Linked DNA regions of Homo sapiens. The protein of the gene in region 2 interacts with the protein of the main gene of each other region in a pairwise test. Each region holds a gene or a part of one and is shown on either strand. Other genes may lie near its edges.

What was found.
Region 1: the proteins of NAGS (region 2) and TMEM39B interact in a two-hybrid assay, tested with the Homo sapiens proteins (one large-scale study listed by IntAct).

Annotation. Positions count from the first base shown.
Region 1 is NC_000001.11:32,100,083-32,103,600, forward strand, and holds the end of TMEM39B (transmembrane protein 39B), read left to right. Parts: intron 1-208; exon of another isoform or gene 209-359; coding exon 360-480; intron 481-658; coding exon of another isoform or gene 659-829; exon of another isoform or gene 830-989; coding exon of another isoform or gene 990-1,025; exon of another isoform or gene 1,026-2,032; coding exon of another isoform or gene 2,033-2,131; exon of another isoform or gene 2,132-2,348; coding exon 2,349-2,591; 3' UTR 2,592-2,781; downstream 2,782-3,518. UniProt on the Homo sapiens protein: May protect the cells against DNA damage caused by exposure to the cold-warming stress and facilitates tissue damage repair during the recovery phase.
Region 2 is NC_000017.11:44,002,867-44,007,421, reverse strand, and holds the start of NAGS (N-acetylglutamate synthase, mitochondrial), read right to left. Parts: upstream 2,801-4,555; 5' UTR 2,759-2,800; coding exon 2,333-2,758; exon of another isoform or gene 2,111-2,332; intron 1,786-2,110; coding exon 1,511-1,785; intron 1,399-1,510; coding exon 1,185-1,398; intron 894-1,184; coding exon 713-893; intron 100-712; coding exon 1-99. UniProt on the Homo sapiens protein: Plays a role in the regulation of ureagenesis by producing the essential cofactor N-acetylglutamate (NAG), thus modulating carbamoylphosphate synthase I (CPS1) activity.

The DNA.
Region 1 (3,518 bases), on a different chromosome or scaffold from region 2:
GTGGTCAGGCTGAGCTTAGTATTTTACAAAGACCACTCAGACAACTGTGTGGTGGACCACTTGGAGGCAAGAGGTGAGACCAGATGAAGCAAAGGGACCCAGAGAGGAAGAAGGGTTCTCTCAACAGTCTCTTAGTAATTAATGTCAGCCCTAGACCACCTAACTCACAGTACAGTGAATTCCTCATGATTCTTACCCCATTTTACAGAGGAGGCAACTGAAACCCAGAAAAGGAAAGTCAGCGTGTCTAAGTGATAGAAATGGGAGTAGAGCCCTGGTGATTCCCTCCTGCCCATTCTTCTGGTATCCCTTTTGTGGGTGAGCTGGGGATAAGGGGCACCATTGAACTGTGCCCCCAGGTGGACTGAAGAATGCATGTGGCCGCAGGGCGTGCTGGTGAAGCACAGCAAGAACGTCTACAAAGCCGTAGGCCACTACAACGTGGCTATCCCCTCTGACGTCTCCCACTTCCGCTTCCATGTGAGTCTCCTCCCCGGGGAAGGAGGGTTGGGGCCTGAGAGGGTGGGAGGATCTGCAGGGCAGGAATGTGATGTCATTGCAAGAGAAAGCTATTTTCAGTATTTCCCCAATCCAAAGGAAGACAGTGCACACATGTAGCACAAGGACAGCCATATAAATTGTCACTTAATAACTGCAGCTCGGCCGGGCATGGTGGCTCACGCCTGTAATCCCAGCACTTTGGGAGACCAAGGCAGACAGATCACCTGAGGTCAGGAGTTCAAGACCAGACCAGCCTGGTCAACATGGTGAAACCTCGTCTCCACTAAAAATACAAAAATTAGCCAGGTATGGTGGCGGGCGCCTGTAATCCCAGCTACTCGGGAGGCTGAGGAGGGAGAACCACTTGAACTCAGGAGACGGAGGTTGCAGTGAGCCGAGATCATGCCACTGCACTCCAGCCTGGGCAACAGAGCAAGACTCATTCTCAAAAATAAATAAATAAATAACTGCAGCTCATTTGGTTGTAGATCTTTGAGAACATTGGACAGAGGGAGAGAAGATGATACAGTAAAAGAAGGGGCTCTTGGCAGTGAAAGACAATACTGTCTTCATTTGTTACTGTGTGCCAGGCATGTCGTTAAGCACTCTCCATGTACCTTCCTACTCAGCCTTACCCTGAACCTTGTACGTGAAAGATATGCTAGGGTTATCTCTGTTTTTAGATACTGAAATCAGCTAAGAGAGTTTAACTTGTTAAAGGGTGCCTTCTTGGGAAACTTGAGAACCTAATGGTAATGACTCATGACTTAGCTATGGAAAGGGCTGCTCAAAATTATCTAAACTAGTGATCTCTATTTTTTTTTAAATTTCACTATGAAATCCCCTCCCCCCCTTTTTTAAAAAAAACAATCAGAGGCCAAAATCCAATATATGGGACATCCTGGCACTGCTCTGTTTGGAGGAGTTAGAACCCCCTTCACTTCCTGCTCACCCCCGCTGTAACTCCTAAAGGATCCCCTTGAAACCTGGGGCTCTAAGGAACACAGCATGAGAAATCACTGACCTAGACTGATGTCTTCATTTCACAGTTGAGACATCCAAGCCCCAGAGAGGAAAGGGACTTGACCAAAGTATTGCAGCCTGTTAGGTGCAGAGCTGAGCCTGATATCCTGGTCTCTTGGCCTCCCATTTCCTACCACTTCTCCTGTCCTGTAAGCAGCTCTTGAGATTTAGGTACCTTGGCCCCTGTGGAATCAAAATCCCTAGACACTGTGCACTCTTTTGAACTCATCAGAGATTTTTTTTTAGTCCCTACGTTCTACCTTGCTGTTGAGAGTGAGCTGTTGCCATGTCCCTTGGCAGCTTCCAGCCTAGCTAGGGATGTACCTATGAAGTAGTAGGTAATTCAGGCTGTAGAGTCTGTAATAACTTTCCATGCCTATGTCATAGGATTCTAATTTGTTCAGGCCCAGCAATACCCAGGAGATGACATTAAAAGGTGTTGATTTTATTGAGGGTCAGTGGATGAGGGAGAAAAAGTTTTCAAAAATTAAAAAAAATTTTTTTAAAGGTGTTGACTTTAGACCACAAAAAGAGTTTGAGAGAGCAAGCAGAACCTGTCAAGAAAGACTTCCTAGGGGAGGTAGAAGTTGAACAGGATCTTAGATGACTTACATCAGAAGCAGCAGTCCTATCAGGAGGAATACCACAAGCAAAGGCAGATGAGGTGGCAAAGTCCACATCCAACCCCAGAAAGTCTTCTTCCCCACCCATGTCTGCATGGGGCCCCAGGAGGCTGTCCCCTTCACTGGCCCACCCAGAACCCCCATCCAGGAGGAAGATTTCTGGAGCACACCTTTTAGCCATGCCCACCCGCTTCCGGGCAGTTCTTTTTCAGCAAACCCCTGCGGATCCTCAACATCCTCCTGCTGCTGGAGGGCGCTGTCATTGTCTATCAGCTGTACTCCCTAATGTCCTCTGAAAAGTGGCACCAGACCATCTCGCTGGCCCTCATCCTCTTCAGCAACTACTATGCCTTCTTCAAGCTGCTCCGGGACCGCTTGGTATTGGGCAAGGCCTACTCATACTCTGCTAGCCCCCAGAGAGACCTGGACCACCGTTTCTCCTGAGCCCTGGGGTCACCTCAGGGACAGCGTCCAGGCTTCAGCCAAGGGCTCCCTGGCAAGGGGCTGTTGGGTAGAAGTGGTGGTGGGGGGGACAAAAGACAAAAAAATCCACCAGAGCTTTGTATTTTTGTTACGTACTGTTTCTTTGATAATTGATGTGATAAGGAAAAAAGTCCTATTTTTATACTCCCAACAAGCCTGTGTCCTGTGGTTCTTTTCCTTCGTGTGTGTGAGACCTATTACAGAGGTGTGGGATTCTGGTTTAGGAAGCCCCAACATGTGGCTTCTGAAGCCTCTGTGGGTACTGCCTTCTTCAGTAGAGAGGAGATGAGAAGGCACTGGAGGCCACGGGAGCAGTGATAGCTACTGCGAACTGAATGCTCACTGTGTGCCAGATGCTGCTCTGTGTGTATTTCAGGCCTTGCCTTAATCTAACTTTTATGACAACCCTAGGAGGAAAGTGCTATCACTCCAATGGATGAAGAACTGGAGCTCAGAGAGTTATAGTGACTTGCCCGTAGTAACACAGCTAGGAAGTGGTAGAGCTGGACATAAAACCTCTGAAAGGCCGGGCACAGTGGCTCAAGCCTGTAATCCCAGCACTTTGGGAGGCCGAGGTGGGCAGATCACTGAAAGCCAGGAGTTCGAGACCAGCCTGGCCAAGATGGCAAAACCCCATCTCTACTAAAAATATAAAAATTAGCCAGGTGTGGTGGCGCATGTCGGTAGTCCCAGCTACTTGGAAGGCTGAGCCACGAGAATCGCTTGAACCTGGAGGCAGGGGTTGCAGTGAGCTGAGATCGCGCCATTACACTCCAGCCTGGGTGACAGAGCAAGATGCTGTCTCAAAAAAAATAAAATAAGGCCGGGCGCCATGGCTCACACCTGTAATCCCAACACTTTGGGAGGCCGAGGCAGGTGGATCACCTG
Region 2 (4,555 bases):
AGCTGGCGTTGACCAGGTCCACTAGACGGCCCTGGTCCAGCTTGTCCAGGCTGCGCACCCGTAGCATTCGCTCGGCGTTCTTGAACAGGGTCCCGGACCCTGGAGGAGGATGGGGAGGGGCTAGTCTGGCTGGAGGGCCGTTTGCGCAGCCTGGTGGGGACTGCAGGTAGGACAGGCGCTGGTGGGACAATTTCCGTCTTTGGGAGACCTCCACAGTGAAATGATTTCAGTGGTCTGCATAGATTTGTCTGTGATTTTCATTCAAGGAGATGCTTTCCCCAGGCAGAGATTGTGCCCCAAGTTCCTCCTGTCGCCTGGAGCCCCACCCACTTCCGTTAGTCTTGCCTCGCTCCTTGAAGTCTGTCTCCCGCCGCTGACCCGGCCCACCCACCTAAGCCCCGCCCATCTCTCCCGGTCGAACACCTCCCTTATGGTCCCGCCCCTGGCCCCGCCCACCGGGGGGCCCCTCCTTCTCCCCCCTAGTCCCGCCCATTCCTTTAATTCCTTCGGAGTTCCCTTCCAGTACACTGGGTCTCCTCCTCTCTCACCTCCCCCGGGTTTCGGCAGCAGCAGGAGCCATTGCTGTGACACCCCCCGCCTCCCCCTACGGCTCCTGGACAGGAGGAGAAGCCGCTCCTCCTGACCGCAGACACCCAGCCCCGGCCAGTACTCACTCCCGGGACCCAGTCCCCGGCCCGCCCACCGCCCTCACCCTTGTTGCTAAAGAGCTCAGTGAGCAGCGTGCTAGCGGCGGTGATGACGGCCGAGGAGTGGTGGGGCAGGCGGCTGAGCACGTCCACGATGAGCCGCATCTGCTGCCGTTCTTTTGTGCTCACCCACTCGGCGTTGCACACCAGGTCCAGGTCGGCGGGCAGGTTCACGTTACTCAGGACCTGTGTCCGGAGTCAGCGGGTGAGCCTGGCCCACAGCCGGCACGGACTGCCCCCCTACCCCCACGGACCTCTCTTTTCTCTGACCCCTTTATCCTTACTTCCGCCCGGAGTCCTTAGCCAGGGAGGGCGCAGATCTGGGCACCCAGGGCTGAACTCCTCCCCTATACTCCCTTAGGCTTTTCTACCCACCCGGCTTGCTAGTGAGTCTGCGGCCCGTCGGGGAGAAGTGCGAGGGGCGCAAGAGAAGGCCCGGATCGCCGGCGTGGGGGAAGGTGAAAGAAAGGGCCGCACCTTATGACTGCTGTCGCGCAGGCCGCCTGTGTTATTGAGGAAGATGATTTTGGTGGGCCGCAGCGCCTTGGCCAGCGACGCGGTCACCTCCAGGGAGTCGAGAAGCACGGAGCGGCGCGCGGCCGTCTCCCCGATGGGGCACAGGATGGGGATGCTGCCCGACTCCAGGCACCACTGCAGCAGGTCTGTCTCCACCGAGACGATGCCGCCGTAGCTGTGGGCCAGACGTGGTGCTCGAGAGGGCCCCCTCCAGGCCTGCCGGACGGGGCAGGGCGGGCAGAGTAGCACGCTCTGAGGACGCCTGGGCGGGCAGGGCGGGCACTCACCTGGCATGGGGAGCCGGCTCGGCAGCGCGTAGCACAGACCCGCCGCCAAAAAATGGCACAGCAGCGGCGGCGTTGTGTCGAAGCGCGTCTACCAGCACCTTGCAGCTCTTGGCCAGCTGCGCCTTGGCCTCCCAGAAGGAAAGACAGCCCGAGGGAGCCGTAGGGGCCGGCAGCCCCAGGACCACCAGCGGCTTCATGTCCATGCGCTGCAAGAAGGCCAGGGCAAAGGCCAGACTGGATACGCCCTGCTGGCACTTGAGCACCTCCTCGTCCACCTGCGGAGGAGTGGGCTTTCAAGGAGCGTGACACGGACCTGAGCCGCTGGCTCCCACAGCCTGGCCTGCAGGGCCGTCTCGGTGACCCTACCCTTCCAGAAGCTGTCAGGACCCAGTTCTGGCCACCAGTGCCCACCTGCTCCGCCCTTTGCCCCGTTGGGTCTTGCCACTCCCTTGTCTCACGCTGGGGTACCTCCCGCCCTCCTCCCTCCGACCTTGGACTCCGGGACATCTTTGGGGGAGGGGCAGTGCAAGCGGCTCCTGTCCAGGTCCTTCTGAACCCCTAACTGCGCCCATGTTGGGGGCCTTCTTCAGAGCATCACACCTGGCGGGTGGGGTCCCCCAGGATCCTCACTCGGGCTGGGCGGGAGGCTTCCGGAGGAGCTTACGGCCTCTCCCATTCCCGGCGGCGCTGGTCTGGGCCCTGCCGGGCTCCTTCCCGCTTCCGCTGCGCAGAGCCCGCAGCGTATCCTGCCATGCCTGAGGACAGGTGGCCGCACAACCCCATCCCCTCGCTGCGTCACGGCCCACGCCGGGCTCCGCTCACCTCGATGACGGCGAAGGGCTTGTCCGCGGAGTGATGGCAGGTCTGGAACTGCGTGAGCCAGTGGCGCGCCTCCCCAGGGCTGGCCCCGCACTGGTTCAGGAAGGCCTGGATGTCCCGCTGCACCAGCGAGCGGCCCGAAGGAGGCTCTGGGGACTCGTGGGGCACCGGGGGCCTGGGACTCGGCACCCACGACGGCTCCTCGGCGACGGGCGACTGGGAGACGTCGTCCGCGCCCGCGTACTCCTCGGGCGGGGGCTGGGGCTGCGACCAGGCGGTGCTGAGCCGGCGCCCCGGGCTGGTGCCCCTCGCCGCCCGCCGCCGCGCGCCACAGCTCAGCCTTCGGGCGCCCCCAGTGCCTCCCCGGCCTCTCAGCCTCGGGGCTACAGCAGCTGCCCGCAGAACCACAGCCATCAGCGCCGTCGCCATGACGACAACCAACTCTTGCCCCCCAAGAGTGGCAGTCTGTCTGGAGCGTCTGGCACTGGGGGGCTCTTAACTTGCCGTTGGGCGGGGCTGGACCTGGTCGGGGCGGGGTCCGGACAGGGGACCAGGAGTCTCCTCTGGGTGCGTTTGAGGAGGGTCAGGCCATGAGTCAGGGGGCGGGGCCACTAGGCTCCCCCGCCCCTGGAGGAACTGAACCCACTATCGGTCATGGGGCCGAGACTAAATGTGGCGGGTTGTCTTTAATCTGCTGCCAAGGTAGGTTCCAGGGGCGGCTTTGGGAGTCTGCAGGGCCTTGGATGATTGGCATTCTGACCAGAGAAGAAGGGACTGTAGGTGGCTTTGAGCACAGGGCTGGGCAGGGGGCTGGAAGGAGGGCGCTGGAAAGAGTAGAAGAAGGGGGGCAGTGGGAGGGCGGGGGCGGGTGGTGCTGGCCTTGTCTGTCCTGTTGCCTGAGCTCAAAAAAGATCCTAATGAATGACCATGAGGTTACCAGGGTTTGCCAAACTCCAGTCACTGGGTACCAGCTTGAGGAATTCTGTGATATCCTCAAAACACCCCTCAAAACTTATAATACTTTAGTGTTAATGCTTTTCTTTATCGAATATCACATCTGGTAAAAATAAAATAAAATAGAGTTTTTTATTTTGGTTTTTGAGATAGGGTCTCACTCTGTTGTTGCCCAGGCTGCAGTACAGTGGTGCAATCATAGCTCACTGCAGCCTCCACCTCCCAGGTTCAAATGATCCTCCTGCCTCAGTCTCCCTAGTAGCTGGGACCACAAATGCACACCACCATGCCCAGCTGATTTAAAAAAAAATTATTTTTTTTGAAGACGGGTGTTCACCATGTTGCCCAGACTGTTCGTGAACTCCTGAGCTCAAGCAGTCCTCCCACTTCTGCCTCCCAAGGTGCTGGGATTACAGGTGTGAGCTACTTCACTCGACCTCTGTAACCCTTTTTTTTTTTTTTTTTTTTGTTTGTTTGTTTGTTTGAGATGGAGTCCCACCCTATTGCCCAGGCTGGAGTGCAGTGTTGCGATCTCGGCTCACTGTAATCCCCGCCTTCTGGGTTCAAGCGATTCTCCTGCCTCAGCCTCCTGAGTAGCAGGGATTACAGGCAGACACCATCACACCCGGCTAATCTTTGTATTTTTAGTAGAGACAGGGTTTCACCATGTTGGCCAGGATTGTCTCAAACTCCTGACCTCGTGATCCACCTGCCTCAGCCTCCCAAAGTGCTGGGATTACAGGCGTGAGCCACCACGCCCGGCCCTCTTTAACCTTTTTAAACTTAAAGTTTATCCATGTTAGGTCTGTAACTAGGCCAGTATCACTTGCCATAAGCCTTAAGAATCAAGTGAGGAGGCGGGTGGGTCATTTGAGGTCAGAAGTTCAAGACCAGCCTGGCCAACATGGTGAAACCCCATCTCTACTAAAAATACAAAAATTAGCCAGGCAGTAGTGGCATGTTTCTGTAATCCCAGCTACTCAGGAGGCCAGAGAATCACTTGAGCCTGGGAGGAGGAGATTGCGGTGAACTGAGACTGTGCCACTGCACTCCCGTCTGGGCGACAGAATGAGACCCTGTCTCAAAAAAATTAAAATTAAAATTAAAATCAAAATTAAAAAAGAATCAAGTGAGAGGAAAACAATGTTATTACATTCCATTATATTCCATCTGCATAGCTTGCCTGCTTTCTTGGTAACATGGAAGGTTAGCAGGTGCCATGTGTTAAAGATACCCTAGCACCAAGCAAAGCCTTCTGTGTGGTAGAGGAAT